Regions from separate parts of the Homo sapiens genome. Here all the other regions are linked to region 1. The links come from fine-mapping of genetic effects on gene expression. A gene starts in region 1. Each other region holds a variant in brackets. All regions are shown on one strand. Distances are between the middles of the regions.

Evidence for each region.
Region 2: its variant is fine-mapped to the expression of UPK3A in anterior cingulate cortex (GTEx, PIP above 0.99).
Region 3: its variant is fine-mapped to the expression of UPK3A in whole blood (INTERVAL, PIP 0.95).
Region 4: its variant is fine-mapped to the expression of UPK3A in whole blood (INTERVAL, PIP 0.96).

What each region holds. Positions count from the first base shown.
Region 1 is chr22:45,280,273-45,288,408 of GRCh38, reverse strand. UPK3A (uroplakin 3A) reads right to left here and starts at 3,460. Exons shown (of 6, transcript NM_006953.4): 1 at 3,344-3,460; 2 at 2,313-2,468; 3 at 958-1,237. The coding sequence starts at 3,395. RefSeq lists a silencer at 3,330-3,639.
Region 2 is chr22:45,934,167-45,942,166 of GRCh38, reverse strand. The region is part of intron 2 of WNT7B (Wnt family member 7B); the gene reads left to right. Among named protein-coding and RNA genes, the nearest start is that of WNT7B, 39 kb to the left of the region's middle. RefSeq lists an enhancer at 6,472-6,972. The variant G/C (reference allele first, on the strand shown) is at 3,608.
Region 3 is chr22:45,416,453-45,424,588 of GRCh38, reverse strand. RIBC2 (RIB43A domain with coiled-coils 2) reads right to left here. Exons shown (of 7, transcript NM_015653.5): 3 at 6,643-6,987; 4 at 2,181-2,299. Among named protein-coding and RNA genes, the nearest start is that of RIBC2, 6.8 kb to the right of the region's middle. The variant T/ATAATACTATTATTAT (reference allele first, on the strand shown) is at 3,039.
Region 4 is chr22:45,406,917-45,415,052 of GRCh38, reverse strand. It overlaps SMC1B (structural maintenance of chromosomes 1B), which reads left to right and starts at 1,454. Exons shown (of 25, transcript NM_148674.5): 1 at 1,454-1,594; 2 at 6,155-6,343. The coding sequence starts at 1,486. RIBC2 (RIB43A domain with coiled-coils 2) reads right to left here and starts at 1,360. Exons shown (of 7, transcript NM_015653.5): 1 at 1,038-1,360; 2 at 650-731. The coding sequence starts at 1,166. RefSeq lists an enhancer at 538-1,371. The variant A/G (reference allele first, on the strand shown) is at 3,178.

The DNA of each region.
Region 1 (8,136 bases):
GGCTGACACAGTGAAACCCCGTCTCTACTAAAAATACAAAAACAAAAGTAGCCAGGCGTGGTGGGGGCGCCTGTAGTCCCAGCTACTCAGGAGGCTGAGGCAGGAGAATCGCTTGAACCCGGGAGGCAGAGGTTGTGGTGAGCCGAGATTGCACCACTGCACTCCACCTTGGGCAACAAGAGCGAAACTCCATCTCAAAAAAAAAAAAGCAGAAGTTGAGGCTGCAGATGGCAAGGCTTTGGTAGGGTTTCTGTTCATGCTGGGCCCCAGCTTTCCACTGGGTGACCTTCCCTCTCTGGCACAGTTTCCTTTCCTGTAAGACGAAGGGGTTTGGGTGGGTGACTTCCACACACGTAGATGGGCCAGGACCAGCTGCATAATCTGTGGGCCCCAGAGCAAAATGAAAATGTGGGCCCTTGTTCAACAATTAAGAATTTCAAGATGGGCCAGGCATGGCAGCTCACGCCCGTAACCCAATACTATGGAGGAGGCCAAAGCAGGCTGATCACTGGAGGTCAGGAGTTCGAGACCAGCTTGACCAACATGATGAAACCCCATCTGTACTAAAAACACAAAAAATTAGCCGGGCATGGTGGTGTGCACCTGTAATCTCAGCTACTCGGGAGGCTGAGGCAAGAGAATCGCTTGAACCTGGGAGGCGGAGGTTGCAGTGAGCTGAGATTGTGTCACTGTACTCCAGCCTGGGAAATGGTGGAGACCCCGTCTCAAAAAATAAATAAATAAATAAAATACAGAATTTCAAGACGGTAGTTGCAGAGCGTCAATCCAAGAGGGGCCTCTTCTGAACTTGAGGCTCAGCGTGGCCTGCCTGGAACCTGGGATGTTCTCAGCATATAAGTTCTCAAGAAGTGTGGCTGCTCCTACTTTGCCCCTGCTCTCCCTCATCAGGACTGGGGAACTGCCGCGGCTCTCCTGTAGTGGTTTGTTTACACCCACCTGTACTCCGTGGCTGCCGACAGGGGTGCGTTACAGAGGCCCTGGAAGTTGGGATCCCACAGGCAGGTCCCGTTGGCACCCACCCTGACCAGGTAGGCATTCAGGATCTGTGAGGCCTTGGACACATCCCCAATGGCATCCAGGCTGGGCAGGTCACTGCAGGGGATCAGGTCAAAGGCCACAGCTTTGTAGGGACCTGTCCTCCCACCCTCTGTTTGTAGGAACGTTGAGCCCAGTGGGGTGTTGGTGCTGTCTTGCACTGAGGCATTCCTGGAAATGGCTGCAGAGGCGGTGCAGGGAGTCAGGCTTCTGGCCACTCCGGCTCAGCGACACTCACTCAGTTATTCATCAAATGCCTGATCATCCTTTCTGCCCCAGCTCTGTGCTGGGCACTGGCATCACAGGCATGGGGCAAACTTAGTCTCTGCCCTCTCAGTGCAATGTGGGAGATGGACAAGGATCACCTCCCTGCTTTGGGCGCTGTGTCTGACTCTCGCCTTATCTTGTGACATTCCTGCAACCCCCCATCCCAACAGACCTTTGTCTCTTCATTGCTGAAAGCCCTGGATTCTCTCTTGTGTAAAATGGGAAAGGAAGGTCATCGGTCCAAGGGAAATAACGTGGAGGCAGGACCCAGCTCTCCTCCTTACTAGATGGGTGACCTTGGACAACTCACTCTACCTCTTCAGACCCTAGTCTTCTATGAAATGGGAGAGAAATTCCCTACAGTGCCCGGAGATCAGGCACTTTAGTTTATAGTCAATAAACACATGCTGAAAGAAGAAAAGGATGGTCCCGAATGAGCTGTTGTAAATGACTGGCTGCTAGAAATGCAAGAGTTGATGTTGGCTTGTCTCAGAAGCTCAGGATCCCCTCCAGGGCAGGGGTTGGGGCTGGGCCACAGCAGCAGGTCCAAATGCATGGTTTTGTCTCAGAAACACCAATCTTGAGCCACCTTTCGAAGCCTCAGGAAGGACCTTGGGCTTGGGGACTAGAGAGATCAGGATTCACTCTCCAGCCCTGGGAGGTCCAGGGGGGGTTATTCCACCTCTCTGAGCCTTGCTTCCCTGCTCTGTAATGGGGATTGGTAATAGCTACCTTACAAGCTGGTTGTAGATACTAGCTCTATGGTGTGCAAAGTGCCTGGTATGGTGTAGGTGTTCAGTGACTGGTGGTGTTATTACTTCCCTCACTAACTGGATGTCCCTGCAAGGCAAGGACAGGTCTGTGGCTGCAGTACCTGTTTAATGAGACGACTACAGGCATGGAGGGTTCCTCTATCTGCCTCCTTCCCTCCTCCCTGCAGACAGGTCAGAGCCCCTTTTGGAGTAGCCAGAGGGAAGCAGGACCCTTACCTGAGTCGACCAGGACATACAGGTAGACCTCGTGGGTGCCAGTGAGGGCCTCTTTGCTGTCAAACATGCAGAGAGGCTTTTCCAAGGCCACAGTGGTAAGTGTGGGGTTGTTGGTGGCGAAAGTCACACTGGCCAGTTGGGGCTGCAGGTTCACAGCTGGAGGAGGCAGTGAGGATGGGAACTGACCTCCGGCAGAACTGTCCACACCCACTCTGCTTGCAGTTACTGAGCACGTGTTGTGTGCCAGGCCCTGGGCTTCACCCTCCCCCTGGGCCACCGCATAAGCTGTCTCAGACACTGCCCCCTGCCCAGTCATCCTGCTCAGAAATGGAGCGGTCGGGCCAAACTGCTGCCTTCTCTCCCTGCTGCAGACACTCAGTTGCCAAGAACTCCACTGCCCCTCCTAAGCATCTCTCCATGCCATCGGCCCAGCCCTCCTCCGTCCCACCTTCCTCACCTGGGCCCTCCCCCCACATGCAAGTCTGACTGCCTCATTCTCTGGCTATGGCCCTCCCATGGTCCCCCAGCGCCCCCTGACGAAGTCCAGCCTCTCTGGAAAGGCAGTGAGGTCCTGAAGTTCTGGGCTTTGCTTTGTTCGGTCTCCAGCCTCACCCCTTCCCCCACAGGCTCCCCTCACCCCAGGCTCCAGCTGGTCCCATGGACTGGCAGTTCCCAGGACAGCCCAATATTGTCTCCCCTCCATGAACTTGCCCATGCTGCTTCCTCGGCCGAAATATCTCTCTATCTGCCCCCGTCCAGGCGTCACCATGGGGCTGGGGCTAGTCCCTTCTCTGTCCTACCGCAGCCCCCCTGCATGTTGGTCTCTTGCAACACACATCGCAGGGCTGCAGCCATCTGTGAGCCCTCGGATTCCCAACAGAGGAGGCCCGTAAACGTTGGCTATCACTATTATTCATAACAGTAATATCTGGGTCCCCAGCGCCAGGAATCAGGGTCCAGGCGGCGGGCGCCCCAGGGCAGAGCTGCCCGCTCTTTCTGGGCTCAGCCCCCTCCTGCCCTTCACCGCCTACCCGAGCCGAACCGCAGGCAGCCGAGGGCCAGCAGGGCCCAGAGCGGAGGCATCGCCCGGGAGGAGCCGCCAGAGCGCGGGGCGGGCGGTCCAGCGAGCAGGCGCGGGCACCAGACCTGTCCCTGCCAGGGCACCTGCCAGCTCTGGGCCCTCGGCGCGCCCCGCCCCCGCCTGGGCTGGCCAATCCGCGGCCTCCTCGCGCGCTATTTGCATACGGCCCTGCCCCGGGCTTCCCCGACCCGTGCGCGGTGCCCCAGGGCGCAATCCCACCGGGCAGGACCTTCTCCAGCCCGCATCAAAGCGCCTACTGTGTGCCCAGGCCAGGGCAGCCCTTCCACAGCGTCTCTCACCAATGGGACCTTGAGGGCAAGCCACTCCCACTTGGAGCCTCAGTTTCCATACTGTAAAATGACGCTAATTTCTACAACTATTTATGGAGGCTCTATTACGTGCCAAACACTCACTGGGCACTCGCGAAACAAAATGGGTTGACCAGTAAAGGTGATATCCTGGAAAACGAAGTCCAGGCCTGGGAGCTATCCAGAGACCCTAGTATGACGCCTAGTATGACCCCTTCGGTTCACAGGTACAAGCCAAGGCCCGGGAGGCTGGGGGGTGGGGCAGGGGGTAAGTATTGGAGCGTGGTGGGGGGCGCGGGGACAGGGACTCACCCCCGGCCGCGCTTGGTCTCCTGGAGACACTGAGGCTGGTGGAACCCAGGAGTCCAGTGCTCAGCCCAGGGCTGCCTCCAAAGGGATGGAGCAGGGTGTTAATGCCTACTTCTTAAAGGGGCGTTTGAAAATTATGATGGACTCCTCACCATGACTGTGCGGTTCCCTCCATCACAAGAATCTGTGCACATCTCTGGATGCACCTTAAATCAATTTTACATTTAAGAAATAAAAGTAAGTCAACAAGGATAGGAAAAAAACAACAGAAGAGGGGCAAGGAGGCTCATGCCTGTAATCCCAACACTTTGGGAGGTCAAGATAGGAGGATCCCTTGAGGCCAGGAGCTAGAGACCATCCTGGGCATCATAGTGAGACCCCATCTCTACCAAAAAAAAAAAAAAAAAAATTAGCTCAGCCTAGTGGGGCATGCCTGTAGTCCCAGGATTGCTTGAGCCCAGGAGGTCGAGGCTACAGTGAACTATGATCATGCCACTTTGAGCTATGATTAAAGCTGCAATAACAGAGCCAGACCCTGTCTCTTAGAAAAAAGATAAAGAAAATCAACAGAAACTAATTAATCTCTGTATGACGTTGATGACATAACCTCACTTGCAGAAAAAGAATAAAACGATCTGAGTAATTATAGAGCTGGGTTGTCCAGGGGTACCTCCTTAGTGGAGTACACTCTAAGAACTGGGAGGCCTGTGACAGAACCCCAAACCTCACTAGTGACTTTGTTATTGGCAGTGGGGAGGGCGGAGCCATTCCGAAGCAACTTTGGGTTATCCTAGGATTGGTGGTACCAGAACCCAGATTCTCACTGTAGGATGAGGGAGATTTGGAATGGAGGAAGGAAGCACATGAGGTCAGTGTGTCCCATTATTGGGGATGTTCCATTTCATCATTTGGTAAAGTTGGTATCTCTGGATTAATGTATGTCTTGTTCCCTAAAAATCTTTTTTTTCTTTTTTTTTTTGGGGGGGACGGAGTCTTGCTCTGTCACCCAGGCTGGAGTGCAGTGGCGTGATCTCGGCTCACTGCAAGCTCCACTTCCCACGTTCACGCCATTCTTCTGCCTCAGCCTCCCGAGTAGCTGGGACTACAGGCACCTGCCACCATGCCTGGCTGATATTTTGTATTGTTTTAGTAGAGACGGGGTTTCGCTGTGTTAGCCAGGATGGTCTCAATCTCCTGACCTTGTGATCCACGCACCTCAGCCTCCCAAAGTGCTGGGATTACAGGCGTGAGCCACCGCGCCCGGCCCTTGATCCCTAAAAATCTTTCCCCAGCTGGATGCGGTGGCTCACGCTTGTAATCCCAGCACTTTGAGAGGCCGAGGTGGGCAGATCATGAGGTCAGGAGTTTGAGACCAGCCTGGCCAACACAGTGAAACCCCTTCTCTACTAAATATACAAAAAAACCCAAAAAACTAGCCAGGCGTGGTGGCAGGCGCCTGTAGTCCCAGCTACTTGGACATCCATGTCCCGCCCAAAAGGTTTAACTTGAATCTCATCAATAGGAAACCATCAGACAGTTCTCAGCCTTTTGTTTTGTTTTGCTTCTGTCTTTCCTGATGTGAACATTTGCAAAGCATCCAGTCCAGCTGGTTTGCAGAAAGTCCCTGCATGTGGATCTGTCTGATGGTTTCCTATTGATGAAATTCAAGTTAAACCTTTTGGGCAGGACATGGTCATGACGGTGAGTTCTAATCAGTGCTACTTGGGAGGCTGAGGCAGGAGAATCTCTTGGACCCAGGAGGTGGAGGTTTCAGTGAGCTGAGATCGCGCCGTGCCACTGTAATCCAGCCTGGGTGACACAGTGAGACTCCGTCTCAAAAAAAAAAAAAAAGCAAGCTGAATGTATGACTTCCATTATTTATTTTGTGCTCAAATGTTCCCAGGCCTGGCTGTTGGCAGCTCCTTCCAGCAGCTCTGTGCTAGCTGCTTTCACGCTCCCACCATTCTTTGAGAACCTCTTTACTTTCTGGCACAATAAAATGTCCCGGGCTCCTCTTGACATTCCCTGTCCCAGCTCTGGATTCAGCCATCTCTCCAAGGGGCACTGGTGCCTTTCACTGGAGACTGGAGTTTAAGATCTAACAGTGGCAAGGTGCCTCTTGCAACTGGGTATTACTGCTTCTCGGTCTGTCTCAATGAACCTAGTTTTTTCTTTTTCTTTCTTTCTTTCTTTCTTTCTTTCTTTCTTTCTTTCTACCTTCCTTCCTTCCTTTCTTTCCTTCCTTCTTTCTTTCTCCTTCCTTCCTTCTTTCTTTCTCCTTCCTTCCTTCCTTTCTTCCTTCCTTCTTTCTTTCTTTCTCCTTCCTTCCTTCCTCTCTTTCTTCTTTCTTTGTCCTTCCTTCTTTCTTTCTTTTTTTTTTTTTTTTTTTTGAGACAGTTTTACTCTATTGCCCAGGCTGGAGTGCAATGGGGTGATCTTGGCTCACTGCAACTTCCACCTCCTGGGTTCAAGAGATTCTCCTGCCTCAGCCACCCACCTGAGTAGCTGGAACTACAGGCGCACGCCACCATGCCCAGCTAATTTTTTTGTATTTTTAGTAGAGACGGGGTTTCACCATGTGGCCAGGCTGGTCTCGAACTCCTGACCTCAAGTGATCCACCCGCCTCAGCCTCCCAAAGTGCTGGGATTACAGGCCTGTGCCTGGCCAGCCTTTTTCTTTTCTTTTCACTTAAAAATCTTGTTTTAGTAATTTTTTTCCATAACTAATTACAAATAACAAAACACCAGCATTTTCCTTCTTCCATTCCAAATCTCCCTCATCCTACAGTGAGAATCTGGGTTCTGGTACCACCAATCCTAGGATAACCCAAAGTTGCTTCACAATGGCTCCGCCCTCCCCACTGCCAATAACAAAGTCACTAGTGAGGTTTGGGGTTCTGTCACAGGCCTCCCAGTTCTTAGAGTGTACTCCACTAAGGAGGTACCCCTGGACAACCCAGCTCTATAATTACTCAGATCGTTTTATTCTTTTTCTGCCAGTGAGGTTATGTCATCAACGTCATACAGAAATTAATTAGTTTCTGCTGATTTTCTTTATCCTTTTTCTAAGAGATAGGGTCTGGCTCTGTTATTGCAGCTTTAATCATAGCTCAAAGTGGCAAGATCATAGTTCACTGTAGCCTCGACCTCCTGGACTCAAGCAATCCTGGGACTACAGGCATGCACCACCAGGCTGAGCAAGTTTTTTTTGATTTTTTTTTTTTTGGTAGAGATGGGGTCTCACTATGTTGCCCAGGATGGTCTCTAGCTCCTGGCCTCAAGGGATCCTCCCAGCTTGCATGTGGATAAAGTGTCATGATACCTGAAACTAACATATATATGAGATTCGAGAGAAAAAGAGAAAGTAAATTTAGTGTAATGTTAGCAATTGGTAAATAAGTATGAGTATTTACTGTAGTGTTCTTGAAATGTTTCTGTAGGTTTGACATTTTTCAAAGTGAAAATGTTGGGGGACAGAGTCTGTTCTCTGCCACAGAAATGCACTGTTCCCCTCTTTGGGTGTCGGTTTACCTTCTAGAAAGTGGGGAGGGAGTTTGGTCACCTCTCAGCCCTGACATGCAGAGAGCGGATGATCAGATCCTTATCTTCAGCACACAGAAAATGTCCCAGAGGTAAGGAACTCTTGAACAGGGCTGCGGTTTTCTTCCAAGAATTTTTATAGACTGACATTTCTTGTTCAACAATTGTTTGTGAACCTGGTTGTGAACCTGCAGTTTATCAGAGGCCAGCAGGGTTGATTTTCTTTTTTTTGAGATGGAGTCTTGCTCTCTCACCCAGGCTGGAGTCCAGTGGGGCGATCTCGGCTCACTGCACGCTTCGCCTCCCAGGTTCAAGCCATTCTCCTGCCTCAGCCTCCCAAGTAGCTGGGACTATAGGTGTGCACCACCACATCTGGCTAATTTTTGTATTTTTAGTAGAGACAGGGTTTCACCATGTTGTCCAGGCTGGTCTTGAACTTCTAACCTCAAGATCCACCAGCCTCAGCCTCCCAAAGTGCAAGGATTACAGGTGTGAGCCACCGTGCCTGGCCTCAGCAGGGTTGATCTTAAAGGCCCAGCTCAGAATCACCTGTGAGAGGAAGTAGGCCCAGGAAATTGTTTTCTCC
Region 2 (8,000 bases), 650 kb before region 1:
CGGGGGTGTCTCCTCACCTCCCTTGGTCTCAATCTCTACACCAGTAAACTGGGGAGGCGGGGACAGTACTCCCCATCCAGCTCTAGGCTGTGAAGAGCCTGGGAATCAGGTGGGGTAGGGGGCAGATGGGGGCTCAGAAAACCAAGGAGCTCCCCAGCCAGCCGTGTCCCAGGGACCCCTCCCCAGCCAGGCCTCAGGGACCCCACCCCACCCTGCATCCCTACCCTACCTCAGCCCCAGCAGTCCTCCCCTGACCTATTCTTCAGGGAAGTCTATCTCACAAAAGCTCCCCTGCTAAAGGGATTTTAAAGAACCCACGACACCAGGCCTCATCCCATGGTAATGGGAAGCTGAGGCTCGAGGAGTGACGGCCTTGGCCAGGGTCACGGAGCACAAGCCCCAGTTCCATGGGGAGTTGGCCCCGGGAGGTGGGGGCTGGGCAATGCTGGGACATCTTCGCGGGGCCAGGCTTGAGTTCCCACCTGCCCCTCGCCTCTCTCCTGCCATCCCTGGGCACCTTAAGCCACCCGTGGCCGAGGCAACTCTTTCCACTTGATCCTGTCCAGCTTCCTGGTAACAGCCCCCCACCAGCTGCCCTCACTGCATTGGGGTCCTCACTGCAGAAGAGTCTGCACTCTTTTTTTTTTTTTTTTTTTTGAGACAAAGGCTGGAGTGTCACCCAGGCTGGAGTGCACTGACGCGATCTCAGCTCACTGCAACCTTCATCTCCTGGGTTCAAGTGATTCTGCTGGCTCAGCTTCCCGAGTAGCTGGGATTACAGGCCCCTGCCACCACACCAGACTAATTTTTGTAATTTTTAGTACAGACGGGGTTTCGCCATGTTGGCCAGGCTGGTCTCAAACCCCTGATCTCAGGTGATCCGCCCGCCTTAGCCTCCCAAGGTGCCGGGATTACAGGCGTGAGCCACCGCGCCCGGCCCTTCTGCACTCTTTCCTCCCTAAACCCCCTCACCCGATCCACTTGCTAATCCCGTTAGCTCTACGCTGAGACTCTGAGACCTGGCAGCTTTTCACCTCCTCTACCTGGCGGGTCATCAGCATTTCTTACCCAAACCCTTGCACAGGCCTCCCGGTGGGTGGGGTGGAGGGTCCCTTTCAATGTAAGTCAAAGTGACACCTTCCAGGGGCTTCCATCTTTTCAGAACAAAGTCCAAGGTCTTCTCTGAGGGCAACATGGTACAGCCCCCAAGGGCCGTCCCCGACTTCATCATCACTGATCTCTGCTGGGACAAACCACTCATGCTCAGCTCATTCTCACCTCAGGGTCTTTGCATTGCTGTTCCCTCTGCCTGGAGCACTGTTCCCTGAACCTGTGTTCCTCACCTCTCCCATCCTTTGGGACCCACCTTCAGCATCCCTTCCTGAGAGGAGCACTCATTGGCCACCCTGCACCCCAGTCCCTCCAGCCACCCTACCCTGCTGGCTCCTCTGTGGCTCTGACCCCTGGCCTCTGGCGGCACTGTCTGTGAGCCGCTCCCAGCCTGTCTGCTCCCCGGGTTCAGTGTGTTGGTTCTGCCCTGCTGTGTGCTCGGCCTTGCACTTGACCTTGGGCAACTACTTGATGGATGGGAGGCTGAGAGCCTCACCCCTGGGATTCTGGGAGGTCCAGCCAGGAGGGAGGCTGTACTTGGTGCCAGGGACACACAGGTGGCAATAACGTGAGTGTTACAGGCAGTGTCGCGCGTGTGTAGAGTGTCAAGAGGCTGGCACAGGCAAGCGTGGCGTCCAGGTCAGTGAGGCACAAGGCAGACTTTGCAGCTTTCCCTGTCCCGGTGGGTGTGGAGTGGGCTGAGCACAAACTCTGGGGTCCTGGTCAGATCCCGGCTCGGTGTCTCACCTGCTGTGTCACCTTGGGCCAGTCGCCTGCCTCTCCTGAGCCCAGTGTCCTAATTGTGAAGTGGGGGGTCTTAGTTCATACCCATGGGGCCTCAGAGAGGGTTTAAATTGAGTAGGACACGGGTATGAAACCCTCTGAAAGCCATCCATTGGCCCTATGTGTCCATCACAGCTTCAGTGAGATCTAATCCACATACTTCACAATTCATCCATTTAATGTGTACAAGCCCACGGTCTTTAGTATATCCAGAGTTGTGTAGCTGTCACTGCAGTTGATTTTAGAACATTTTCATCACCCCAGAAAGAAACCCTGTGGCTTAATCAGTCCCAGTCCTCTCGCCCCTGGCAACACTCAGGTGCTGTCTAACTCTCCAACTCCTGCTCCTCTGGGCATTTCATAGAAATGGAATCACACTATATGTGGCCTTTGGTGTCTAGCTTCTTTCACTTGGCATGATGTTTTGGGGTTTTTTGAGGTGGGGGTTGAGATAGGGTCTCACTTTGTTGCCCAGGCTGGAGTGCAGTGGTGCGAACATGGCTCACTGCAACCTTGACCTCCTGGGCCCAAGTGACTCTCCTGCCTCAGCCTCTTGAGGAGCTGGGACCACAGGCACGTGCACCACCACACCTGGCTATTTTTGTGTGTGTGTGTGTGTGTGTGAGTGTGTGTGTGTGTGTTTGTAGAGACAGGGTTTTGCCATGTTGCCCAGGCTGGTCTCAAACTCCTGGGCTTAAGGCATCCGCCCATCTCAGCTTCCCAAAGTGTTGGGACTACAGGCGTGAGCCACTGTGCCCAGCCGATATGTTTGAGTTTTATCCACACTGTAGCATGTATCAATACTTCATTCCTTTTTAAGGCTGAGTAATATTCTGCCGTATGGATAGAACACATTTTCTTTATCCTTTCGTCCATTGATGGACATCTGGGTTGTTTCTACCTTGGGCTGTTACAAATAAGGATGCTATGAATACTTCTGCACAATATATAAGTGGGCGCCTGTTTCATTTCTCTGAAGTGTATGCATAGGAGTGGCAGTGCTGGGTCACATGGTGACCCTACGTTTAAGTTTTTGAGGAGCTGCCCAACTTTGCCACAGTGGCTGCAGCATCTCACACTGCCACGAGCATCTCACACTGCCACCAGCATCTCACACTGCCACCAGCATACAGGGGTCCCCATTTCTCCACATCCTCACCAACACTTGGTATTGTCAGTCTTTTTTGCCTTTTATTCCTAGTGCGTGTGAAGTGGCATCTCACTGTGGGTTGGATTTGCATTTCCTTGACAGCTAATGATGCTGAGAATCTTTTGTCTGCTTATTGGATGTTTTTATACCTTCTTTGGACAAATGTCTGTTCAGGTCCTTGGCCTACTATTTTTTAGCTTTTATTTTTTGATTGAAAATTAATACGTAATATTACACATATTTATGGGGTCCATGTGATATGTTGATACATGTATACAATGTGTAACAATCAAGTCAGGGTATTTAAGATTTCCTTCCTTTAGAATATTTATCATTTCTATGTGTTGGGAACATTTCCAGTTCTCTCTTCTGGCTGTTCTGAAATACACAACATGTTGTTCTTAACTGTAGTCACCCCAGCATGCTGTCAGACACTACACCTCACTCCTTCCACCTGTGTGTATTTGTACCTCTCTTTTTTTTTTCAAGACAGATTCTTGCTTTGTTGCCCAGGCCGGAGTGCAGTGGTGAGATCTTGGTTCACTGCAACCTCCCCTCTCCCAG[G/C]TTCAAGCGATTCTCCTGCCTCAGCCTCCCAAGTAGCTGGTATTACAGGCGCACACCACCACGCCTGGCTAATTTTTGTATTTGTAGTAGAGACGGGATTTCACCATGTTGGTCAGGCTGGTCTTGAACTCCTGACCTCAGGTGATCCACCCGCCTCGACCTCCCGAAGTGCTGAGATTACAGGTGTGAGCCACAGCACCCAGCCATCTTTGTACCTCTTAACCCACCTTTCTTTATCCTCCAACACCCTCCCCAGGCGCTGGTGTCTGTCATTCCACTCTCTACCTCAATAACTTCAACTTTTTTCGCTCCTCCATGTGAGTGAGAACATGTGATATTTGTCTCTCTGTGCCTGGCTTCTTTTACTTCACATGATGACCTGCGTGCCACTGCAGGGATGACAGGGTTTCATTCTTTTTCATGGCTGAGTAATACTCCATTGTGTATCTATACCACCTTTTCTTTATCCCTTCACCCGTTAGTCTTTGTCCTTTCTAATTGAGTTGTTAACCATTTTATTATTGAGTTGTAGAAAATGTCATTTTTTTTTTTAGACGGAGTCTCGCTCTATTGCCCAGGCTGGAGTGCAATGGCGCGGTCTCGGCTCACTGCAACTTCCACCTCCCAGGTTCAAGCGATTCTCCTACCTCAACCTCCCAGGTAGCTGGGATTACAGGTGCCTGCCACCATGCCTGGCTAATTTTGTATTTTTAGTAGACCTGGGGTTTCACCATGTTGGCCAGGCTGGGCTCGAACTCCTGACCTCAGGTGATCCACCTGCTTCAGCCTTCCAAAGTGCTGCTGGGATTATAGGCGTGAGCCGCTGTGCCCGGACAAAAATGTCATTTTTTAAAAAGAGGGGCAAGTACGGGAGGAGAATTGAACTGTGTGGGCCGGAAGCACAGACCCGTGAGCACAGGTTCACATGGCAGCTGGCGGGCACTGCCTCCAAGGGTCAGCCCAGGTGTACGCCAGGGACACGTGCTGAGGTGCACACCTGCTGCCCAGGGATGCCCAAATGTGTGTCTGCCCACGAAGATCCCAAATGTGTCGTGTGTCACACCTACAGGCATGAAGCTCAGGTCAGCCTGCCCCCAGGACTGTGTGTGCCCTTCTGGCCAGATTGGAGCAATTCTCTCATTTTGCAGGTAGGGAGACAGGGACACAGAAAGGCCCCTTCACCAGTCTGAGGTCACTCAGCTGGCCAATTTCAGGGTCTGGACTTGAAGGCAGGGTGTCAGACTCTGAGCCTCCCCCTTGCTTCCAGAAGGCTCCAGGAGCATGTGTGGCCCCCAGACCTTTGCCCTCACCTCAGTCACTTGAGAACCTCATGTCCTGGATCCCCCATTTCCTGAGCTGCTGTGTGACCTTGGGGAGCATGCTGCCCACCTCTGGGCCTCAGGCTCCTTGCTGGGGATGGAGGAGCCGCACTGGATGGTCCCCAAGGGCCTTCCCAGCACTGAGGCTGCAGACTCCTGGCTCTCCTCCTAGGAGGGCACCAAGTACCTCTCCCACCTCCTCCTCCGTGCAGTTAATCAGGTCATTAGGAGCTCAACCATGGCTTTCTAACAAAAGTGCACCGGCCCCTGTGGACGCTAGGAAGTGGCAGGGAGCTTGAGTGGATGGTGAGGAGTGGCAGCTGCGGCTGGGAGGGTGGACTCAGCCCCCAGCTTTGCCCTGAGGAGAAGAGGGGGAAGCCTCATCCTGCCCAAGCCCTGGCTTTGTTCAGGACACACATCTGCTCTTTCTAGAAGCTGCTCACAAAGATCTGCCAGGGTCCCCACCATCCTCCTCATGGTCAGAGTGAGATGACTGTGGATGAGGGCGCAGCTCTGCCCCAGCACACACCCCCTTCCCTGGACATCAGGGTCTGGCTGGCACTGCAGAGGCAGGGCAGGGGGCTGCGTCTCCTCCCTCTGAGCCTGTCCTGGGCCCAGCCAGGGGGTCCTTTGAGGGCTTGAGTTCAAATAACTTACGGAAAAGGGAGCAGAGCTGGATGGCCCTTGCATGGCCAGGCAATTTCTGACCCAGCAGCCTCCATTTACCCACATGTCTCTGAGGACTCTGATACTCTGGATTTGAGGGGACAGCTGGGCAGGGCCGATGGGGCTGGCCTTGGGGAAGAGGCTGTTTCCAGCCCAGTCTGCATGGAGCACAGACAGACACCTCGGTCTGTCCTGGAGTCCTTTGCTGTGTCTGGTCCACCCGTAGCCGGCCCTGGACTGCCCACCATCTTAGTGATGTGGGTACCATGCCCATTCATCCTGTTTGCTCTCAGAGCTGGCAGCTAGGGCTGTGCAGCAAGGTGAGGATTTTGAGTTCCATGTATCAAATGGGAACACAGGCTCAGAGAGGGCTGGTAACTTGCCGAGGCACCAGAGATAGCCTGCACTGGAAACAGTGAATCCTGCCGCAGGGCTGGAACCTTCAGGACCATTACTCAGAAACCCACCCAGTGCTCTTGAGGGCTGTGGGGTGAGGGGTGGCCAGAATATAGTCTGCTCTGGCATTTTCTAGGGATACTGCTGGATGCTGCTGCTGGCTCTAGAATCTGGGGGTACAGACCTGTGCTTGGGTAGGCTGTGGGTCTTCAGAGAGGCCCCTAGGCCCCCCGAGACCCAAGTGTACCAGCAGGACAGCTGCCGGCCCCAAACAGAGCATCCGTGCTGCCCTCATCCAGCTTCCCCATCACCACACACATCTAGGGCAGCTGCTGAGCTCAGATGGCTTTCGTCACTGCCATGGGCCTATTGCAAATCCCTTCCTGCTTTGAAGGCTCGGTTTTCCCATCTGTGAAATGGGTCTGATCAGAATGGGGCTGTCTTGGAGATAAGGTGGTGTGGGGGAGGTGCCCAGTCCAGACCTGCTCATGCATGGGATTTGGGAAACAGCGATGGGTGGGAGGTACAGAAAAGAATCAGATGTGGATCCTGCCTGCAGCCTGAGGGGCACCCAGTGAGAGCCCAGGGGAGGGTGTGCCCACTACAGAGGGCATTCGGGGAGGAGGGAGCCTCCCTCCCTGCGTCCAGAGCCTGAGGAGTGTGTGGATATGTGGGAGGGTGGGCAGGTATTCCAGGAAGGGAGGGGGCTGCTGTCCCCCAGGGCAGGCGGCAGGAAGCCAGCAGGTCCTTTATTCAGGAGTAGTTACTGTGCACCAGAGGTGGCTGCCCAACCTGCAGGCAGGCCACGCTGGGCTGCAGGCAGTGGTGGGCGAGGAGCGGTGGGGTCAGGCCTCTGGGGCCTTGGGGGCCAGGCCAAGGCACTGGAAGTCGTCTCAGAGGCCTTGGGGGCCACTGACAGCTGCTGAGCAAGGCACATGGGTCCAGGCTGTCTGCACCCACTGCAGAGGACCGGCTTCTAAGTCTAAGCACTGGCTCGCTGTCAGCCTGGAGGAAGGATGGCGTGTGGGCGGACTGGCAAGGTGCCCAGTCACGGCCCCAGGAGGGACTTGGGGAGGGACACGGGGGAAGCCTGCAGCCCTTCTGCCCTTCCCACTACACACCTAGGCACACCATGACAAAGCCCTCGGAGTGGGCGTCTAGGTCTGTAACATGGGGTAACGGGCCCTCCCCCGTGGGCTGTTGTGAGAATTAAACCAGACAACACAGGCAACGTGCCGGGCGCACGGGAGCCCACAGTCCACGGCAGCGACTCTCGCCGGACCTAAGGTCGTTCTTACTGATTGTGCCAAAACTATGACTCTCTGCAGCTCACCTCCCCCTTGTCTCCATGACGAGAGACCAGAGGGTTTGGCTCATTAAAAGCAAATAAAAAAGGAATTAGCAGGAGCGGCAGGCGATGAGTAACCGGTGAGTAACTGAGTCTGAGCCTGGGGCAGGCATAGCCAGGTGAGAGCAGGCGCTTGCGGGAGGCTGGAAGGGAGGCTTGTGGGAAGTGTCCTCCAAGGGTGCAAACCCAGCCGTGGATCTGCCAGCCTGCTCAGGGACTTCAGGACAGTGGCATCCCCTGACCCGCTCTGCAGCCTTCCTATGGGGCAGGAAGAGGAGGGTCACAGGCTGTTGTTCCAGGACCTCTGAGGGGACATCCACATCTGTCCTCAAGGTCCACCGGCTGGGCCCGCACAATCATTTGGGGTTCCTAGACCCCCTCCATCGGGTGACACATGCCCACTCCAGAGCCAGCTCAGCCTCCCTAGAGCTCCTACCCAGAGCCTGCCTACAGCTGCGCCTTTCCCCCAGGTCCACAGACTGTCCACAGGCAGCATCTTCCCTGGGGGCTGCATAGCCCACATCCCCCCTCTCCTCCTGCCCCAGGTCACCTTAGCCTCAGAGAGGCCAAGCTGGGGGCAGAAGGACCTTCCAGGGCCCCCGACCCCAGGCACTTTGCTCCTCCGTCAGCCTTCCTGGTCTTTGAATTCATTCCCTGGGTTTGA
Region 3 (8,136 bases), 140 kb before region 1:
TGTCCATGGCGGGCAGGGAGCATGCATGGAACATCAACTTTCTGTTTAAGCCACTGAGACTGCTGCTTCTTATCCCAGCAAGGGTTAGCACATTCTGACCGACACAGGAGGGTGTTGTCGCTTCCTCATTCTGCAGATGATCAAATGGACGCAGTGGGTGGCCTGCCCAAGGCTGCAGGGCAGAGCCTGGTCTGCACCCCGTGTGGTCGGGCTCCAGAGCCTGCGTGCCACACCCTGATGCCACAATGCCTCTCTGACGAAATGAGCCCCGACCCAAGAACTGGAGGCCCTCACGTGTGTCCTTCCTGTTGAACTGGACCGGCCTGCTTGGGCTTTGGATTAACATCCCAGGTTAATTAAAAAGCCTAGTTGTAGTTAGTAGCAGAGCTGCAGAAGCCAGAGGGCGGCTTTTCCCAGTGCAGGAGTGTTTGCAATGGTGCTGCCTCGTGGCATCCACGTGAGGAGCCGGGGGTCTGAGAAAACCAGGCAGGCTGTGGATGCCCATTAAACATCTTCTAGAATATATGAATGAATAAATTGATGAATGAGACAATAGGGTTTAGCAAAAGCCACTCCAATGCCCAGCAGGAAGGGCTCAATAAACATTGGTTGAATTGATGAATGAATGAGTGAATTATCATCATCATCATCACCATCGCTTCCATAAATGAATGAGCAGATCACCAGCCAACAGTGGACTAATTGTCAAGGGCCCCACATCCTGCCATTCACTTGCAGTGGGGACTGGAGCAAACAGCCTCCCCTCTTTGGTCGCCCTCTGTAAAATGAAGGGCAGGGATGGATGATCTCTAAGACCTTTGCAGCTCACTGGGTGGTGAGCTCGGACTTCAGGTGTCTTGCTTTGCCTTTTGGTCCTCCCCAGCCCCCGCAGTTGGCTCTCCTCATTCCTCTCCCCCGTGTTGAAAACCCACATTCTCTGGTGTCTGGTCCAGCCTCTCTGGGATTTTTGACTGCCTGCCTCCACCAGGACAGTTTTGAGCTTGTATCTCCAATATATTTAGTTCACAGCATGGTACTACTATACCTTAATGATAGCACATGCTTATAACTACACATGTACATGGAAATCAAAAGTGATGAGGTTAAAAATGAATATAAAGCAGGGCTCTGGTATCTGCTCTCCCACAGATCCTGCACAGCCTTCTTTGGGGACCATAGTTCTAGTTGACGAGCGAACCTGATCAATGAACCCAGGCAAAGTCCCCACCCACCAGAAAACAGAATTGCATTCGAAAAGAAAACCTTGTGGGGGGAGGGAGAGGCAGGGGGGCGAGCTCTAATTTCCAAAACGAAAAGAGGGCCAGATGTGGTAATCCCAGCACTTTGGGAGGCTGAGGCGGGAGGACTGCTTGAGCTCAGGAGTTTGAGACCAGCCTGGGCAACATGGCAAAACCCTGTGTCTACAAAAAAATACAAAAATTAGCTGGGCATGGTGGCGCGTGACTGTAGTCCCAGCTACTTGGATGGCTCAGGTGGGGGGATCATCTGAGCCTGGGAGGTCGAGGCTGCGGTGAGCCATGATCGTGCCACTACACTTCAGCCTGGGTGATGGAGTGAGACCCTGTCTCAAAAACAAACAAACAAAAAAACCAAAGAAACAAAAAGAAGAACCTATTTCAGCAATTTCAGCATCAGGTTGGAGGGGAGGGGAGTGTGTGGGAGGAGGGGGGCCAGAGTTTAGAGAGGAGGTGGGAGGTCTCAGGAGGCCCCAGTGTTCGAGCTCATTATGATCTTCTTCATCATCCCTGCCATCGGTGAGCATCCAAGTAGCTGTTCTCAGTAAAGGGGAAGTCTGAGAGGTGGGAAGAATGGAAACCAGCACCAGGCAGTGGAGCAGAGCTAGGCGGTAACAGTCTAGGTGGATGTCACCATCCTCATGTTACAGAAGAAGAAACCGAGGTGTAGAAAGGTGAGCTGACTTCCCCAGGTTACATGGCTAGTTTGGCAGGTTTCCCTCCAAGATTCAGAGCTAAGGCACAGGACTGGGTCTCATCCATCTCTGTCATCAGGCAGCCCATCAGGGTCTCTGTCAGGGCCGGTCATGTGACCAGGGAGCAGGCTGAGACTGGGATCCCAGGGAAGCCGGAGAGCCTTGGGAAGCCGTAGTGGGCTCATCCTCCCCTCCAGTCGTCGAGCCCGAGGTCGCGGAGTACCTATACCTGGCTCTTGTTGAAGTCTTTCACAGATGCACAAACTGCCTTTCTGGTGGTGCTTTCCAGCTTCTGGAGGTGCTTGGCTGTCTCGTCAAACTGCAGCCTTGTCTCTGTGTAGAGGGCCTCTGAAAGGAGGCAAGAAGCAATCAGATCGACCTGGCCACAGGAGCACCTTCCCACGTGTGGCCGTTCGTGCCTTTGCCTCCTACCACGTCCTTAGCCATGAGCATGAGGACGGGAACAATAATGACAGGACCTGCCTCTGAAGGCTGTGGGAGAGTCAAGCTCCCAGATGAGTGCTAGTGATCACTACTATGCTGGGGTCCTGGGACAGGCTGGTGGTGTGCCCCTTGCTGTCCTGCTCTATCCTGAGGCAGCTACATCCTTACAGTGGGCAAGAGATACTCTACAGCCCCAAGAAATGACGTTTGAGACCTGCAGGACAAAAGAAGTGGGTTGGGAGCAGGTGCAGAGGTTTTGGGAAAGGATTCAGGGGAATCCAGAAGTGAAAGAGCAAGAAACCAGACAGGACTCTATGGAGGAAGTGGGGCCAGATGACAGATACTGTGGAGTGGCAGGAGGACTTGGTCAGGCCAATGAGTAAGAGAAAGAGGAAGAGTAGGAGGTGAAGGGGTCAAGGTAGAAGGTCCAAAAGCAAAATGTGAAGATTTGGAGTCAGAGGAGGCTCACATCCCAGCCCAGACATTTCCGAGCTCTGTTAACCTCAACTATTACTTAGCCTTGCTGAGCCTGTGTCCTTACCTGTGAAGCAGGACATACCTCCTTTGCAGAATAATAACATTATTATTATTAATAATACTATTATTATTATTAATAATACTATTATTAATAATACTATTATTA[T/ATAATACTATTATTAT]TATTAATATTATTAATAATACTATTATTATTATTAATAATACTATTATTAATAATAATAATTAATTAGACATCCAAGTGCATTAGACATCCAAGAGAAGTTAGATGAATTTATGAGTCTGGATTCAGGGAAGAGTCCAGGCTGGAGGTATAAACCTGGGAAATGATGGCCTATAGGTGGCATTTAAATAATAATTAATTATTTAATTATTATTATTAATAATAGTATTAATAATAATAATAGTATTATTATTATTTGACATGGAGTCTCGCTCTGTTGCCCAGGCTGGAGTGCAGTGGTGCATCTTGGCTCACTGCAACCTCTGCCTCCTGGGTTCCAGCAATTCTCCTGCCTCAGCCTCCGGGGTAGCTGAGATTACAGGCGCGCACCACCACGCCCAGCTAATTTTGTATTTTCAGTAGAGACAGGGTTTCACCATGTTGGCCAGGCTGGTCTTGAACTCCTAACCTCGTGATTTGCCCACTTTGGCCTCCCAAAGTAAGAACAGTGTTGAATCACTTGAACCTGGGAGGCAGAGGTTGGCCAGGCTGGTCTCAAACTCCTGACCTCAGGGGATCCACCCACCTCGGCCTCCCAAAGTGCTGGGATTACAGGTGTGAACCACTGCACCTGGCCAAACTCCACATTGTTTAAAAGTATCACTGACTGCTGTTTTGGGAATGGACCAGAGAGGGGCAAGAAAGGAAGTGGAGGCCATCAGAAAGATCTTGGCAGAGGTCTGTTCAGCTGAGATGGTGGCTTGCATCACAAGGGTGACAGCAGGGATGGGGACAAGCGGACAGTTCAAAATATATGCAGGAGGTAGAAGGGACAAGAGTCAGAGATGGCCTGGAGTCAGGGGTGGGTCATGGATGATTCCCTAGACTTCTGGTTTAAGGGCAGGAGGTACCAGTTAGTTGGAGGAGAAAGATGGAAAAAGGAGCAGATGCAGAAGAGGATCCAGGGCTGCTTTCCGACATGTTGTGAAGGGTCCTGTGAGATGTCAAGGAGACTGCTGAAGAACCAAGTCCACAGCTGAAACAAAGCCTTTTGGCCAGAGGTGGAAATTTAGACCACTTGGGAGATGGATGAACCATACAACACGTCAGTGATCAAGGCTATGGAGAAAAATTAAGCAACAGGATACGGAATGTGGGGTGGGAGGAGGGTACAGGGTTTAAAATAGGGGGGTCAGGGGAAGCCTCACTGATAAGATAGCACTTTAGCACAGCCCTGGAGGAGAGTGGTGATCCCTACAGATATCTGGGGAAAGACATTTCTAAGCAGAGGGAACAGCACATGCAAAGGCCCTGAGGCAGAAGTGAGCCTGATATACTCACGTCTGAAAACAGCAAGATAGTGTGGAAAGAATGGAGTGAGAGGGCAGCATAGCAGGAGATAAGGCCAGACTGTGAAGGCGTTGTAGGTCTCTGAAAAAAATCGTTTACTCTGAGTGAAATGTTTACTCTGTAGGATAAGGGGAGAGACCCAAAGAGCAGCTGAGAGATGCTTTTTGTTTGTTTGTTTCAGATGGAGTCTCACTCTCACCCAGGGTGGAGTGCAGTGGCACAATCTCAGCTCACTGCAAGCTCCGCCTCCCGGGTTCACGCCATTTTCCTGCCTCAGCCTCCCGAGTAGCTGGGACTACAGGCACCCGCCACCACTCCCGGCTAATTTTTTGTATTTTTAGTAGAGATGGGGTTTCACCGTGTTAGCCAGGATGGTCTTGATCTCCTGACCTCGTGATCTGCCCGCCTCAGCCTCCCAAAGTGCTGGGATTACAGGCATGAGCCACTGTGCCCGGTCTTTTTTTTTTTTGAGACAGGGTTTCACTCTGCTGGCCAGGCTGGAGGGCGGTGGCACAATCACGGCTCACTGTAGCCTTGACCTTCCAGGCTCAGTGATCCTCCTGCCTCAGCCTCCTGAGTAGCTGGGACTACATGGGCACGACACCATGCCCAGCTAACTTTTTAATTTTTTGTAGAGATGAGGTCTCACTTTGTTGCCCGGGCTGGCCTTGATCTCTTGGCTTCAAGTGATCTTTCCTCCTCAGCCTCCCAAAATGCCGAGATTACAGGCATGAGCCACTGCGCCCAGCCGAGAGATGCTGATAGCCTTAGTTCAGAATGGGAATGTTGGAGGGTGTGGAAAGTAGCTGAAAAATGGAGAGAAAGGAAGGAGTCAAGATTACCTGGGCTGGGGCCTGGGCAGCTAGAAGAAAGGAGCTGTCACGGATGTGGGTAGAAGGTCAGGTCTGCAGGGAAGAACAGAGTTATTGGACTCGTGCTGATCTTGACAAGTGCATTAGACATCCAAGAGAAGTTAGATGAATTTATGAGTCTGGATTCAGGGAAGAGTCCAGGCTGGAGGTATAAACCTGGGAAATGATGGCCTATAGGTGGCATTTAAAGCCATGAGACCGGACAAGATCACTCGGGTGAGTTTAGCTGGTAGAGGAGAGCACTGGTGTGAACAACATCCAGAGGTTGAGCAGATGAGAAACCAACAAAGGACCTGGATGGGAAGGGAGCTAATGTGAGAGTGGTGTTCTGAAAGCTGAATTGCATGCGCATTTCCAGGAGCAGGAGGTGATCGACTGTTAGGTCCAGATGAAGGTCAAAAACCGACCTTGGATTGGGCGACATGGAGGTCACTGGTGAGGTTGGCCAGGGCAGTTCCAGTGGAGCAGGGAGGGCATAAATCTGGTAGGAGTGGGAGAAGAATGGGAGAAGATGATCTGGGGAGACATCACTCATGGAGAGTAGACTGGGGAGAGAAGAGGCTTGGAGGAGGATGGGCCGAGCAAGGAGACTGCAAACTAACAAGCAGAGAGGAGGCGCTCAAGAAGGCGGAGTGCATTCCTCTCTGTGCCTGGTCCCTGTTTTGTCTTCCTCATAGCTCCTCACTATTCCATCACCCGCTGACACACCCCAAGAGAGCAGGGATGTTGTCGTCTTCGTTACCCGGTCTTTCCGGCACAGAAGTGGCTGGGCGGGTCAGTGCTGCTCGAGTGCAGGCATGAAGAGGAGCTGGGAGAGCAGAATGCTGCTGACCTCAGTGAGGACACATGGGGCTTTCTGCAGTTCCCTCAATGAGAGGCTGTTTCATGCCTTGGAGCCTTTGCCCAAGAGGTTCCCTGGGCTTGGGGAGTCCTGGTGAGGGCATGTGACCACCATGCCTGCAACTACACCCCCAAAGTCCCCTGTAGGAATTTCTACCACAGCACCCAAGAGACTCAGGAAGACCTGCATCTTTCCCATTCACCTTCCCCGCAGACTGGGAGGGCAGGGACCGATTCTGAGTTACCTCTGCACGCCGGCATCCAACTGGGACCCCGACACGGAAAGTGTTTTCCACATGACTGAGGTGTCATTGCAGGTGTTTCCCTCCTGGAGGGCAGGCTCTGACTTTTCTTTCCCCACAGGGCCAAAGTAGCATGTGGCTGTCTGTGCACATTGGTAGGACTTTAAACAAATCCCACAAAAACTGTAGGGTTGCTTAAAAAAAAAAAAAAACTGTAGGGTTGCTTAAAAAAAAAAAAAAACTGTAGGGTTGGTTTGTTGAAGAGAGCGTTGAGACCAGCTCGTCTCTTCTGTTTCATTACCTGCGCATTTTTGTTCAGCACGGGCGTTCTTCCATTCCCTTTGCTGCTGCAAAGACCATTCTCTGTTTTGTTCCTCTTGGAATTTCTTCCTCTCATGGAAGTTTAAATCCTCTCCCATGAATTTCTGCATTCCTGATATCGTATTCCGAACATCATTATCTGACTGCCGGGCTGGAAGATCTTTCTTAAGGGCTAGGGGGTCGGACAGATCAAATTCACGGCGAGTTTCTGGCTTCTGAAAGCTCTGTTGGAAGTCATTGATAGCCCTACAGAGATTTTTCCTATCCCTCTTTTTCCGGTTTTCCAATATGCACATGATTTTGTCATTTTGCCTCATTTCAGCAGCTGGAAGAGATACAGCATATCCATAAGCTTAGGATTCAGAGGAAAAAATAAATTTGAATCCATTTTATTTTTTATTATTTACTTTTTTAGAGATAGGGCCTCATTATGTTGCCTGGGCTGGTCTCCTGGCCTCCAACCATCTTTCTGCCTCAGCCTCCTGAGTCACTGGGATTATAGAAGTGAGCCACTGAACCCAGCCCATGAATCTACTTTAAAAACTAATTTTTTCAGTGATTGCAAAAGTAATACAACCCTCCAAAAAAGTAACACAGCCATTAAAGGATTAGTATCCTGAATATACAAAGAGTACCTACAAATCAATTAAAAAAACCCCAAAACCCCAACCCAATAAATGGGCAAAGTGTAGGAACGGCCAGGCAGATCACTATAAAGAAACCTGAGGCTGGGTGTGGTGGCTCACACCTGTAATCCCAACACTTTGGGAGCCCGAGGTGGGCGGATCACCTGAGATCAGGAGTATAAGACCAGCCTGACCAACATGGTGAAACCCTGTCTCTACTAAAAATTCAAAATTAGCCGGGCGTGGTGGCAGGAGCCTGTAGTCCCAGCTACTCGGGAGGCTGAGGCAAAAGAATCGCTTGAACCCAGGAGGCAGAGGTTGCTACGAGCCAAGATCACGCCGCTGCATTCCAGGCTGGGTTACAGAATGAGACTCTGTCTCAAAAAAAAAAAAAAAAAAAACCTGAGTAATCAATACAATTATGAAAGGATGATCACCCATACAAGGTGGGAAACATCCAATGAATCGAAGGCAAAATATTTAAAATGCTAATAATGGCACACATTAGTAAGGATGTGGGGAAACAAGATCTCTCATTTGCGGCCAGGCATGGTGGCTCACGCCTGTAATCCCAGCACTTTGGGAGGCCGAGGTGGGCGGATCACAAGGTCAAGAGATAGAGCTTATCCTGGCCAAGATGGTGAAACCCCGTCTCTACTAAAAATACAAAAATTAGCTGGGCTTGGTGGCACGTGCCTATAGTCACAGCTACTTGGGAGGCTGAGGCAGGAGAATCGCTTGAACCCGGGAGGCAGAGGTTGCAGTGAGCCGAGATCGCTCCACTGAACTCCAGCCTGGTGACAGAGCAAGACTCCATCTCAAAAACAAAACAAAACAAAACAAAAACC
Region 4 (8,136 bases), 130 kb before region 1:
GTTGTATTTGAAGTGGAATAATAATACCTTGAATAACAGTATTCAAGGTACTTGAATACTATGATTTGAATCATGTCTGTCTCTGAGTCAGCTTGAGGGTGTGAGCCCGGACATATGTGTTGTCTGGTATAAACAGCTGTCCTTCATAGACGGTCTTAAACTTTTGAGCAGAGCAAGTGAGTGTGTGTGTGTGTCTTTCTGTGTTTAAGGCTTTTCCTATCCAGTTTTTTAAGAAAATGAAGGAAAACATACATATACCCTTAAAATCTATTTCTTATAATCCACATTCGAATTCAATAGCTGTTTTTAAGAGAAGAATCAGTGCATTAAGTTAACTGGGCACAAGAAATTGTGAAATTTAAAAGGAAGAAGAGTGTGAAAATGACAACTTTTTATATATGTGAAGAAAGGAGGGCTGGGTACCGTGGCTCATGCCTGTAGTTCCAGCACTTTGGGAGACTGACGTGGGAGGATCACTTGCACGCAGGAGTTCCAGACCAGCCTGGGCAACATAGTGAGACCCTATCTCTATTAAATAAAAAAAATAAAAAATAAAAAAAAAAAGGCGGGGCAGGGGGACGGTGGGGAAGACTGGAGTCTAAAGCCACACAATCCTAAACCAATAGATAAGCATTCAGGAAATGCTCACCAAAGGTTTCATGTCTAGCTTTTTCAGTAGCTTCTTTTATCTTCTGGTCATGAACTTGAACATCCCAGGCTTCAGTGTCTCCCTATAAATGGAAAAACAGAGGAGAAGGGTTAGAGCCAGATCATTTTATTCAGTAATAACAATCCTACTTATTATTATTTTTAATCTCTGCCCCACTGTAAACGAGTTGTAGAAAATCTGGCTCAGGGGAGGAGAACCGTTGGTGACTCCAGGCGAGCTCGAGAGGGAGCATTATTGGCCCTGCAGGAGGCCGTTTGCTGCCTCCTGGCTCAGATGTTTCATCCTAGAACTCATCTCCTTTCCCCCTCCACGCAGCCCCTCGCCCGCATCTGCCGCTCTAACCCCGTCCCGGCCCCTGCCCTTTCACCCCAATTATCCTGTTTCTGGCGTTGAAGACCCGCTTCTGCCTGCACAGCTCCGCGTGCCTCCTCTTTGCCAGGTTGGCGTCCTGCCGCAAGTCCCTGGGCAGCGCCACCGCCATGGTCTGGGAACCCATGGAAAGCCTAAGGGGTTTTTAGAACACGCAGGATCAGGAGAACAGGCGACGAAAATAAGGAAGCTGTAGCGCAGGCAAGGTCGGCTCCTTCGGTCGGGCAGGGGAAAGACAAGCCTTTAGCGCAGTTTTCCGTCGGGCTCCCAGTGACGCCGCAGAGGTACAGACGCTCCCGCTCTCTCGGAAATGTCAACAACTCGTTGCTAAGGAACGGCTCCGCGCTTGCCGCGTCTCGCTCTCTTCTCGCGACACTTGGCGAATCCCTTCCCGCGCTTTTTCCGCGGGCGCTTGATAACGCGGGTGAGGCGTGGAGGGCGGCGCCATGGCCCACCTGGAGCTGCTGCTTGTGGAAAATTTCAAGTCGTGGCGGGGCCGCCAGGTCATTGGCCCCTTCCGGAGGTTCACCTGCATCATCGGCCCCAACGGCTCTGGTAACTGAGCAGCTCAGGGCGCCACCGGAGCGCCTCCGCCGTCCCAGGCGTCCAGGCCACACGTGGCCTGTGGGGTGTGGGCGTCTGCCGCGGGCGCCTGGCCGGCCTTCCCCTTCCAGTCCCGGAGCCTGACCGCGACCGGATCCCGGCCTGGCCCTGGCCCAGCCCCTGCCCATCACCCCACCTCAGCCCCGGTCCTCGCCGTCCACCTCAGGGGTCCCGACCCTTGTCCCTCCGCCCCACCTCGGAGGTCCTGACCCTTCCACTCGGCCCCGCCTCGGGCCCCGCTCTCGCCCTCCACCTCCTGGCTCCCGACCCTCCTCCGACACCCTGAGGGACCCCACCCCACCTCAGCTCCGGCCCTCGCCCTTCATCTCAGGGGCTCCCAACCCTCGCCCCCCACCCTGGGGGTCCTGACGCTTCCTCTCCGCCCCGGTCCCGCCCTGGGCCCTGTTCTCTGCCCTCACTCCTGCTTCGGGGACTGCTCTTGCCCTTGGCCCTGGTCACTCGCGTCCCTTTTCCCTTCTCATCCGAAGTTGAAGTGAGAGGGAGCTGTCGAGGAGGTAATGGGTTCCAAGCAGCCAGAACCACCATTTGGATCCAAGGGAGCTTTGACCCAGGAATGTAGTGATGATGACCCAGTTTACTGAGCTTTTCCTAAGTTCCTGGCGACACCGTCTTTGGTTAGCCATGGCGCATGGCTGCTCTCCCCATTTTATAGTTGGGGAAACTGAGGTCTGGAGAGGCCAGAGGACCTGCGGAGGTCTCTACTAATAATACCAAAATTAGCTGGGTGTGGTGGCACACGCCTGTAATCCCAACTACTCTGGAGGCTGAGGCGGGAGAATCGCTTGAACCTGGGAGGTGGAAGTTGCAGTGAGCCAAGGACACGCCATTGCACTCCAGCCTGGCAACACAGTGCGACTCTCGTCTCAAAAAAAAAAAAAAAAAAAAAAAAAAGGCTGGGCGCGGTGGCTCACACCTGTAATTCCAGCACTTTAGGAGGCCGAGGCGGGTGGATCATGAGATCAGGAGTTCGAGACCAGCCTGACCAACATGGTGAAGCCCTGTCTCTACTAAAAATACAAAAATTAATCGGGTGTGGTGACATGCACCTGTAATCCCGGCTACTGAGGAGGCTGAGGCAGGAGAATCGCTTGAACCCGGGAGGCAGAGGTTGCAGTGAGCCAAGATAGCACCACCGCACTCCAGCCTGGGTAACAAGAGCGAGACTTCGACTCTAAAATAAAATAAAATAAGATAAATATAAAATAAAATTGGCCGGGCGCCGTGGCTCATGCCTATAATCCCAGCACTTTGGGAGGCCGAGGCGGGCGGATCACCTTAGGTCAGGAGTTAGAAACCAGCCTGGCCAACATAGTGAAACCCCTGTCTGTACTAAAAATACAAAAATTAGCTGGGGGTGGTGTCACGTGCCTGTAATACCAGCTACTTGGGAGACTGAGGCAGGAGAATCACTTGAACCCGGGAGGCGGAGGTTGCAGTGAGCCAAGACTGTGCCACTGCATTCCAGCCTGGGCGACAGAGCAAGACTCTGTCTCAACAAAAAAATAAGGCCTGAC[A/G]TGGTGGCCCACACCTGTAATTCCATCACTTTGGGAGGCTGAGGCAGGCAGATCACTGGAGGTAGGGGTTCAAGACCAGCCTGGCCAACATGATGAAACCCCATCTGTACTAAAAATACAAAAAAGCCTGGCGTGGTGGCGCACGCCTGTAGTCCCAGCTACTCAGGGGACTGAGGCAGGAGAATCGCTTGAACCTGGGAGGCAGAGGCTGCAGTGAGCTGACATCACGCCACTGCACTCCAGCCTGGGCAACAACAGAACAAGACTGCATCTCAAAAATAAATAAGTAAAAATAAATAAATAAATAAAATGCACCGTTCAGTGGTTTTTAGTATATTCAAAAGTTGTGCAACCATCATCACCATCTACTTCCAAAACATTTTCATTGCCCCCAAAGAAACCTTGTACTCATTAGCAATCACTCCCTGTTATTTCCTCTCCACCTAGCTCCTGGTATCTACTAATTCACTTTCTGTCTCTATGGATTTACCTATTTGGGACATTTCGTATAAATAGAATCAGACAATATATGGCCTTTTGTGTCTGACTTCTTTCACTTAGCATAATGTTTTTCAGATTCATCTATGTTGCTCCTTGTATTAGTACTTATTTCCTTCTTATTTTCAAATAATATTTCACTGTATAGATATACTACATTTTGTTTATCCATCAGTTGATAGTTTGGGTTGTTGCCACTTTGTGGTATGTTATGCTGCCTTGACTCTCTTGACAGACTATAACCTTTATTAGGCAGGGACAATATTAATGAAATTTAATGGAATAAATGGATTTGGATGAGAAGTATTTATTTTAGGCAGATTTAAATAAGGATTGACTTATTGATTTTAAAAGTTTATGTTTAGTTTTGTTACTTAATACTTAAATTACTTAATAATTTAATTCAGTGAATGTTTATCTTGTCCATATGCACTGTCTTACAATAGCCCTCAATGTGCAGATTATCCATTAACCCAAAAAAGCCGTTTCATACCTGTTAGTTGACTGAGACTCAGCTAAATAAATTTGCAGCAATTTATTTCTAGTTCTTTTTAGAAAGACCCTAAACCTCTAAAACTAAGCCATATTTCCGGTGGCTGATAGTATTCCTTTGCTTTGTTTATGTTACTTTCCTAGTTTTGGCATTGAAAATTAATTAATTATTTCTTTTGTCTTGAGATGGAGTCTTGCTCTCTTGCCCAGGCTGGAGTACAGTGGTGTAATATCAGCTCACTGCAACCTCTGCCTTCTGGATCCAAGTGATTCTTCTGCCTCAGCCTCCCGAGTAGCTGGGATTACAGGCGCACGCCACCACAGCTGGCTAATTTTTTGTATTTTAGTAGAGACGGGGTTTCACCATGTTGGTCAGGCTGGTCTCGAACCCCTGACCTCGGGTGATCTTCCTGCCTCGGCCTCCCAAAGTGCTGGGATTACAGGTGTGAGCTGCTGCGCCCAGCCTGAAAATTTAAACTGCTTTGTGGATATAGGGGAAGGGATGTGAAAAGGAGAAATAATAGTGATGGTGACAGCTGCATTGACATTGCACCTTGGAAATTGTCTTAGAGAAAATTATGGGCCAATGATTGGGTAACAGATTTAACATTGGGGTTAGGAATGCCCACAACTACCCTTAGGTTCAGTAATTTGTTGGGAAAACTCACAGGATTCTACATATAGTTTGACTCAATACTATTATTTATTACAGTGAAAAAATACAAAGCGAACTCAGCAAAGGGAAAGGATATATGAGGCAAAGTCTTAGGAAACCAGTTGCAAGATTCCAAGTCCTTACCCATTGGTGTCACTCAGTGCTTCATTCCTCCAGCAGCTAGTCCACACATGTGAAATGTTGCCCACCAGGGAACCTCACTAAAGACTCAATGTGCAGCGTTTTTATCGGGAGATTGTCACATAGGCACCGTTTGCCTATCATGTACCCAAGTTCCAGAATCTTCTTAGGCCAGACCTTCCTCAAAAGAAATTATAAAATAATATTCCAGAATCCTAGAAAGAAAGCATATGTTCAGATTAAATCATATTGTTTGTACAGATAGTTTAGGCACTGTGAGCCATTCTTAATAGGGAATGTTAGAAACCCTCCCAACATCCAAATCCAAATCCCTGTAAGCCAGCCAACCTTGTAAGTAGGACTTTCAAAAGATAACAGTATCAAGCCTGCTATATAAATTTTCTGTAGCACCATCTCATACCAATCAAACAATTTTAATCTAGCCCTCGATCCTGGATTTAGTTAGCTTCTCTTGTTTTTATTTATTTATTTATTTATTTATTTATTTATTTATTTATTTATTTAGAGTTGGAGTCTCTCCTCGTTGCCCAGGCTGGAGTGCAGTGGTGCAATCTCGGCTCACTGCAACCACCGCCTCCTAGGTTCAAGCAATTCTCTTGCCTCAGCTTCCTGAGTAGCTGGGACTACAGGTGCGTGCCACCAAGCTCGGCTATTTTTTATATTTTTTGGTAGAGAGGGGGCTTCACCGTGTTGGCCAGGCTAGTCTCGAATTCTTGACCTCAGGTGATCTGCTCACCTTGGCCTGCCAAAGTGCTAGGATTATAGGCATGAGCCACCGCGTCCAGCCTTAGCCTCTCTTTTTTAGAGTATAAGAGGATTTGGTGCTGCACCAATGCTTTAGGTAGTTTCCATATTTATAAAATGAGGATAATTGAAACTCAGTGAAGTTAAATGATTTGCCATGGTGTGATACCTAACAATGGAAGAGAGCTGGGATTTAGATAGGTGTATTTCAGTCCTTAAATTTAGACCTCTTAATAGTCTACAATAGATGCATAGAAGAAATGAGTTATCTACATCAAATATTTCAGTCATGCATTTTGAACATTGATTAAAAAGGACATGTCTTTTGGCTATATTTCACTTCGATTGGTGGCCTGATTTCTTCAGCTCTGGGTAGGGCTTTTTATCATTAAGAATGAATAATGTTTTATCTCTTTTCTTCCCCAGGAAAATCTAATGTAATGGATGCACTTAGTTTTGTAATGGGAGAGAAAATAGCTAATTTAAGAGTGAAAAATATTCAAGAACTCATTCATGGAGCACATATTGGAAAACCTATTTCTTCTTCTGCAAGTGTAAAAATTATATATGTGGAGGAAAGTGGCGAAGAGAAAACATTTGCAAGGATTATCCGAGGTATTTTTTTATAATTTTTTTTCATTTTATTTTTCAAGAGTCAAGTAAGATTGCCCATTTTTTCTTTCTTTGGAGGGTATGGTTTATTATTCTACTGGTGTAATGAACTAGAGTTCTTTTTTCTCTTGCATAGCATATCTCAGAAGCAAGTAACAGAACCTGTTTGATTCGCCACATATTTCTCCAATTATGTCTGCTTTTCCTTAACTGACATAATTGTTCAAATCCCCCTACTGTCAAATAACATTTTAAAATCTGGATATTTAGTTAAGATGAAGGAGGGAGGGTCGGGTATGGTGGCTCACGCCTGTAATCCCAGCACTTTGGGAGGCCGAGGCGGGCGGATCACGAGGTCAGGTGATTGAGACCATCCTGGCTAACACGATGAAACCCCGTCTCTACTAAAAATACAAAAAATTAGCTGGGCGAGGTGGCAGGCACCTGTAGTCCCAGCTACTCGGGAGGCTGAGGCAGGAGAATGGCATGAACCCGGGAGGCAGAGCTTGCAGTGAGCCGAGATCACGCCACTGCCCTCCAGCCTAGGCGACAGATCAAGACTCCGTCTCAAAAAAATAATAATAAGATGAAGGAAGGAGTACCTTGAAGACAGAGAAATCATAAAATTTATTCTTGAGGTTCTTTATGTTTATCAGTTTTTCTTAGTGATGAACAAATTGTATGCATATTTTTGGCTTTATTATAGACAGTTTTTTCTACCACCAAAAAGCAACTTGAGTGAAATGTTTGAATTTGTGTGTGTGTGTATATATACATTTACGGGAAAAGAGCGGGGATTTGGGAAAGAGGAAGAAATTTTTTTTAAAGGTGTGGATAGAAAAGAGACCAGTGGTTGCATTCTTTTGAGCCTTTGATCAATTGTTCACATGTGACAGGGGTAGAGGCATAGTCACTTCTGCATTAGGCTAGCTCAGTGAATCTGCATTTTTATATAAGATAATATAGGCTGGGCATGGGGCTCATGCCTGTAATCCCAGCACTTTGGGAGGCCACAGCAGGACGATTGCTTGAACTCGGGAGTTTGAGACCAGCCTGGGAAACGTGGTGAGACCTTGTCTCTACAATTAGCTGTGTGTGGTAGCGTGAGTCTATAGTCCCAGTACTTAGGAGGCTGAGGTGGGAAGATGACTTGAGTCCGGGAGGTCTAGGATACAGTGAGCCAAGATTGCGCCACTGCACTCCAACCTGGTCAACAGAGCAAGACCCTGTCTCAGAAAAAAAAAAAGATAAAGATAGTGCAGAGGAGACAATCAGATATACATTTATCTCAGGTGAGCAGAGGGATGACTGAGTTCTGTCCTTTGTCCTGTACATGTGAAGATAAGCTATCAATTTATATTGTCAGGTTAAAATTCAACAGAACTGTTTTAGGGTAAAGATCTTGGGGCCCACAAGGAATTTCCCTGTGGGTAAATTGTGAGGGAGGCATGCAGTTTTTGTTGCTGTTGTTGTTTTTCAATCTTTACAGCTACCTTATTTAGTAACAAAATAGGAGGCAAGTTTGCATGACCTAGTTCCCAGGTTGACTTTTCCCTTTGGCTTAGTGAGTTAGGGGTTCTGAGATTTATTTTCCTTTTACATCCTGACTAGGATATATGCTCTTCAGATAAGAGACTTTCATGTGTTTTGTTCGCCACTGTAAAAGAGACCTTGACATGTAATAGACACTCAATATTTGTTGACTCATTAAATGCATTTATTCCCATGTATATTATTATATAACTGGCCATTTCAATAAGAAAAATAATTTTATTAAACTTTCGGTGGATTTTGAG